2 separate regions of the Homo sapiens genome follow, and region 1 is linked to region 2. The links come from fine-mapping of genetic effects on gene expression. A gene starts in region 2. The other region holds a variant in brackets. All regions are shown on one strand. Distances are between the middles of the regions.

Region 1 (2,922 bases), 69 kb after region 2:
ATTTTGAGTTTAATAATGAATTAAGTTTAATAGGTCCTGAGCCCTAGAGGCAGCCTTTTTGAATTTCGCTTACTTTTGTTTGAACTGGAGTAGCCATGCATCACCAGGAGTAAACGAATTCATCTGTATTGTGAATTGTATTAATAAAAAACCATGGAAATGGTAGAATTTTAATGATTAGATTACTATTATCTAGAAATATTATAACTTTAATGATTGTGTTATTTTATTTATCTTAAAGTCTCAAATCATCATTTTCTTTTAAATTAATGCACCAGACCAAAACAATGTGATGAATCAGGGAATATTTGATATTTTAAGGACCATCCACATTTTACACTTTAACTAGAAAAAGCTTTCTGTAAATCTTCACCCACACACTTTTCTTTGAACTTACCAGCTATGAATTTATAATTGCGGAGAAGCATGTATATGTATCTAAAATGGCAGTTGGGGTGGAATAATTTGTATTTGATTTTGATTAATTTCAATTGGACACCAGTATTTTTGCTTATATAGGAAATTACTTTCTTGGCCATGAAGATTTTGCACATCTCTCTAATTGGAGTCCCTTAACCCTTCCTCTGAAATGGCACAGGGCTTTACTTTTACATATTCGGTGTATCTTATGTGCTTGAAGAGCAGCTTTCTATCCTGACAGCAGCGTGGGAGCTAGAGTCCAAGGAAACTGGTTTGAATTCCAACTGCGCTCATTTTAGATCTGCATACTTGAGCAAGTGCTTAAATTTCCTGGGTCTCAGTTTCCTGATCTGTGAAACAGGGATGCTAATTTATAGGAGGGTTGGTGTGCAAATGAGAGACAAGCTGATAAAACACGGAGTTCGCTTCCTGCCCACAGTGGTCAGGCAATTATTTTGCCGATGCGTCTGCCTCTGTCACTAGACAGGTGCTGATCAGGGTAAAGGCTATTTCTGTCTCGTTCACTTTTCTGTCCTCATTCCTTAGCACAGTGTTTTACTTACAGAAGAGATCAGTTCATGTTTCTTGATTGAGAAAATTAAATAAAGCCCATCATAAACTCTAACAAGAAAATCCAAAAAGGTGTGAAATTCCTACTTTCTTGCCCTACACCAATTTCTTTCTATATGTGATGCTAGTTTGTAAATAGATGAAGGCACTTACATTACACATTAGCTAAGGTCTTATCTAGAGGGTAAAATAATTTTCACATCTCAAGTAAACAGAGAGAGTTGAAATGGCCACAAAGAATTTGTTGTGCATTCTATGTTGTTTCCTATATCCATAATTCTCATTGTGTCAACACAGTGGTTCAAAAGAGCTTGTCAATAAGCTTAGTAAATACTCCACATAAGTTACAATTCAGATAACAAAAAGTTTGATGTAAAGGTGCTATTTTTTCATTTCTCATGAGTAGTCATTGTGAGAGATTGTGTCTTCTGTTTAAAATGTAAGACTTATTTTCTAATACCATGCCTGTATGAATTTAATAAGTACAATTATTTCTCCCATGCCGGTTCTTGGATTCAAACATCATAGAACATGACTAATTAATGAAGTAATGTAATTGGCTACATGTTTTAATTAAGAAGCTTGGGGCACATGCACTTTGCTTTTTTTCCCCCATCTATAGTTTATATATTTTTTCCTTTGGAGATGTATGATAAGGATGAGAGTTGCCTGTCAGAATGAGAGTTGGAGAACTTCTGCTTACAGAAGTCAATATTAAGTGTCTACTAAAATCG[A/G]CTAGATCTCTACCAGACAAAGCTTCAGAATAAAATAAGTGATAATAACTACAAAAGCTGGACATGAACAAAAGCCGCAACCAGGATGCCCTGGAGGGTGAAGAGAAGCAGACAAATCCCCAGGGGAGAGCAGGCTTGCTCAGAGAAGGGGAGGTAGAAACTCCTTAAGTTATGTGGGAGGGTGGCAGGGGGGCTGAGGCTGGAAAATTACCTGTTGGGTGCAATGTTCACTATTGGGGTGATGAGTACTCTCCAAGCTCAGACTTCAATATATCCGTGTAACAAAACTGAACTTGGACATATTTCCTAAATCTATACAATTTTTTTGAAAAAGAAACTCCCTAGGTAATTTTTCTTTGGGGGTTGTGGGGCACATGTGAAAAAAATCTAGCATCTTTCTGCTAGATAAATAAGAAACCAGAAAAGAGCTATTGAAGAAACTAGGAAATTCTCAAAGGAAACAACCCAAGAATGGATGTCCAAAATCAACGTACCCACAGCTCTGACTGACCCCCGAAACATGCATAGGAAGAATAAACTCAAAGTATATCAGCTAAGGACAAAATATCTGGACTGAGACCAGAACTGCTGCCCAAGAAACTGAGTTTTCAGTTCATACCAGCTAACAAAATTTTATATAATTACTGAAATATATAAATCCACATACCAAAACTGTAGATGCTTTTGTATGTAACTATTACATGTATACAAAAAGAAATAATGAAGGTATGAGGATCATTTAAGTTATAATACTAATTTAAGTATAATTGTAAAAGCCGTATCATTTTGTCTTTTTAGATTTTCATTGCTAGTTGTTGGTAGATTTAAAATTTGTGAAACCATCTTTATTTCTCTCTGTATATGTATTTTTTGATTTATTTATGATTAGCATAATTGTAAAAAACATTTAAGCTTTGCTCACTCTCTTAGATTTTGAAGAGCGCTTCAGTATTTTGTATTGGCATATCCAATCATTTACTTCATCACTTAATAAATTAAACCTTTCCTGAGATAGATATACATCTGCTGGAAATGGGCCTAAATGAAATTGGCAACTCACATGTGTCATATCATTTTTTACGCACTTCAGTAGTTACTAACAATTAGAGGTAGGCAGCCCACCCCTGCCCCAGCAAACTGTCTACCAGGAGGTGCACTGCAAAGACGAGTATTGCAATCTGCATACAGACATAAAACC
Region 2 (2,922 bases):
TTCTAAGTGAAGTAACTCAGGAATGGAAAACCAAACATTGTATGTTCTAACTCACAGTGGGAGCTAAATTACAAAGATGCAAAGACATAGGAATGATCTAATGGACTTTAGGGACTCAGGGGAAAGGGTGGGAGGGGGGTGAGGAATAAAAGACTAAAAAATGGGTTCAATGTGTACACTGCTCGGGTGATGGGTGCACCAAAATCTCACAAATCACCACTAAATAACTTAACCATGTAATCAAATACCACCTATTCCCCAAAAACCTGTGGAAATAATTTTTTTTTAAATGGAAGCATCCAAAATGTAATTTGTTTCCACATTCTTGTAAGCCTCATTATGTATCCCAGGGACAGTTAATATCGTCATACGAATTCACAGGTGAGGAAATGGAATCACAGAGAGATTATGTACTTTGCATAAGGAGAGCGAGGGTGAGGCAGGATTTGCAGTCTAGAAGCCTGGGTCTGGAGTTCTCCACTTTGCACTATATCATTTCTGTAAACTTCTTACTTAAGACTGTGTGGAAATGTAGAGTGAGACAGAACTAAAGCTCACTATTCTTAGTCCACAGGGGAGTAGTGACTACCCAGGGCTTGGTAAGTGCTCAGTAACGTTTGTTGAAAGATGAATCAATATTTCAATGCTGGGGCAAAGCAGTGAAAAACTGGGGAATGTCCAGGAACCAGCCATCAGGATAAGGCAGGACTAGAATGAATGCAACAGTCCTCACAGGTCCACCAAGTCAACAACAGAAAAATCCAAAGCTAAGGTGGCTCTTGTGTGATCAAGGACCTCTTGTACACCGACCTGTTAGGCTGTGGCACAGTCAACATGGGAGTTGTAGACAAGCTACTTGAGAGTGGTTAATGGTAGCAGTCAGGCATTTGGAGCTGGAGGCAAGGCTGATTCTCCTCAACTAGTATCATATTGAGCGGGGACTTAAAGCCTCAGAAGTCTGAGCAGAAAAGCTGAGACCAGGCTCCTTGGGACAGGCTGTTCATATGCATGATTGAGTTTCAGTGATGAGTCCCAGAAGGAAAAAGTTTATGCATGTTTTCCTTAAAAATATATTCACTTATATTTAGAGAATCCTTCAGATATCTAACCTAAATACGTCTGTAACATTTACTCTCATTCTTTTTATGACATTATTAGTATAATAATATGAATAATTCCCAGTGGACTTACTTCCACACTTCCTTCAAGGATTCTCCATTTTATTTCATAATTGAAGACTGTTAATAAATCACTCTCTAGCTAAGAACAATTCAATGCTAAAACACTTAGCTTATCTGACCTTCACATTAATTATTTTTATGACAGCAGCAGGAACTTTCAGCTGCTTTTCCCCCTTCCTTATGAAGCCATGTGGTCCCAAGCAGACAGAGTTCCCTTGCTACACTTAAGGGTGGGCTTCTCAGACCTGAGCATATCTTAAAAGCTTTCCCTTGACTGTGCCAATCCAAACTCCAAGTTTCCTCAGCAGATTTAAGGGGTTTTAAATCTACTTGAGCATGAGTGTTATGAGAAGACTTTGAAATTCTTACAAAAACTGAAAGTGAAATGAGGAAGACAGATTGAGCAATCCAATCGGAGGGTAAATGCCAGCAAACCTACTGTACAGTAGGGGTAGAGATGCAGAAAGGCAGAAAGGAGAAAATTCAGGATAACTCTCCTGAGGGGTGAGCCAAGCCCTGCCATGTAGTGCACGCAGGACATCAACAAACACAGATAACAGGAAATGATCCATTCCCTGTGGTCACTTATTCTAAAGGCCCCAACCTTCAAAGTTCAAGTAGTGATATGGATGACTCCACAGAAAGGGAGCAGTCACGCCTTACTTCTTGCCTTAAGAAAAGAGAAGAAATGAAACTGAAGGAGTGTGTTTCCATCCTCCCACGGAAGGAAAGCCCCTCTGTCCGATCCTCCAAAGACGGAAAGCTGCTGGCTGCAACCTTGCTGCTGGCACTGCTGTCTTGCTGCCTCACGGTGGTGTCTTTCTACCAGGTGGCCGCCCTGCAAGGGGACCTGGCCAGCCTCCGGGCAGAGCTGCAGGGCCACCACGCGGAGAAGCTGCCAGCAGGAGCAGGAGCCCCCAAGGCCGGCCTGGAGGAAGCTCCAGCTGTCACCGCGGGACTGAAAGTGAGTTTGCAGCAGCTGCAAGACGCAGGCAAGATCCTGCCTACACTGCTGCCTCTCCCTCGCCTCAGCTGTCTTTCTAATAACTTGAAGTTTTTCTGTTCATAGATCTTTGAACCACCAGCTCCAGGAGAAGGCAACTCCAGTCAGAACAGCAGAAATAAGCGTGCCGTTCAGGGTCCAGAAGAAACAGGTATGTTTTGGGCACAGACACTTTTAGGAGTCAGGGATTAGAGAATAACATCCAGTCTGGGGGAGCTGGAGGTGAGTATCCCCTCTATGAACCTATTAAATAGAGACTATGAAATTTGCCATCCAAAGCAGACATTGCTTTAGAGCAAAGCCCCAGCGCTGGCAAATGTAACAGGCTGCATGGGTGTGCTTTTTCCTCCAATGAGCAGATCGTGTGACTGGAAGCATTTCTCTGTGCGTGTGTAAGTATTTATCTGTGCATTAAGCATAGAGGAGATAAAAGGGCCATATGTGTTTCCTCAGGTAGATAATGCCCTCCCATGTGAGAAGCATTATTCATCACTCCAGAAAAATAAAAAAAAGCATTACATGTTAGAATTAGACTTTGCTTACTACCTGGGTCATAGAAAGTTAAAGACATCTGTTTTCTGAATGTACATTACATGTTGTGAAACCAGGTGAAGGTTGTAATGAAAGGCCCTGTATGTTGTACTTTAATTTTGTTTATTTGTTAAAAAGGTTATTTTACACACACACACACACACACGCACAGACACACACACAGATTTTAAAGCTTCTCTTTAAGGT

What was found. PIP is the estimated chance that this variant, and not a neighbour inherited with it, causes the effect.
Region 1: its variant is fine-mapped to the expression of TNFSF13B in whole blood (TOPMed, PIP above 0.99).

What each region holds. Positions count from the first base shown.
Region 1 is chr13:108,336,932-108,339,853 of GRCh38, forward strand. The region is part of intron 2 of LOC105370355 (a long non-coding RNA gene); the gene reads left to right. Among named protein-coding and RNA genes, the nearest start is that of TNFSF13B, 69 kb to the left of the region's middle. The variant A/G (reference allele first, on the strand shown) is at 1,725.
Region 2 is chr13:108,268,090-108,271,011 of GRCh38, forward strand. It overlaps TNFSF13B (TNF superfamily member 13b), which reads left to right and starts at 1,629. Exons shown (of 6, transcript NM_006573.5): 1 at 1,629-2,145; 2 at 2,251-2,335. The coding sequence starts at 1,807. RefSeq lists enhancers at 1,665-2,094, 2,046-2,554 and a silencer at 2,455-2,534.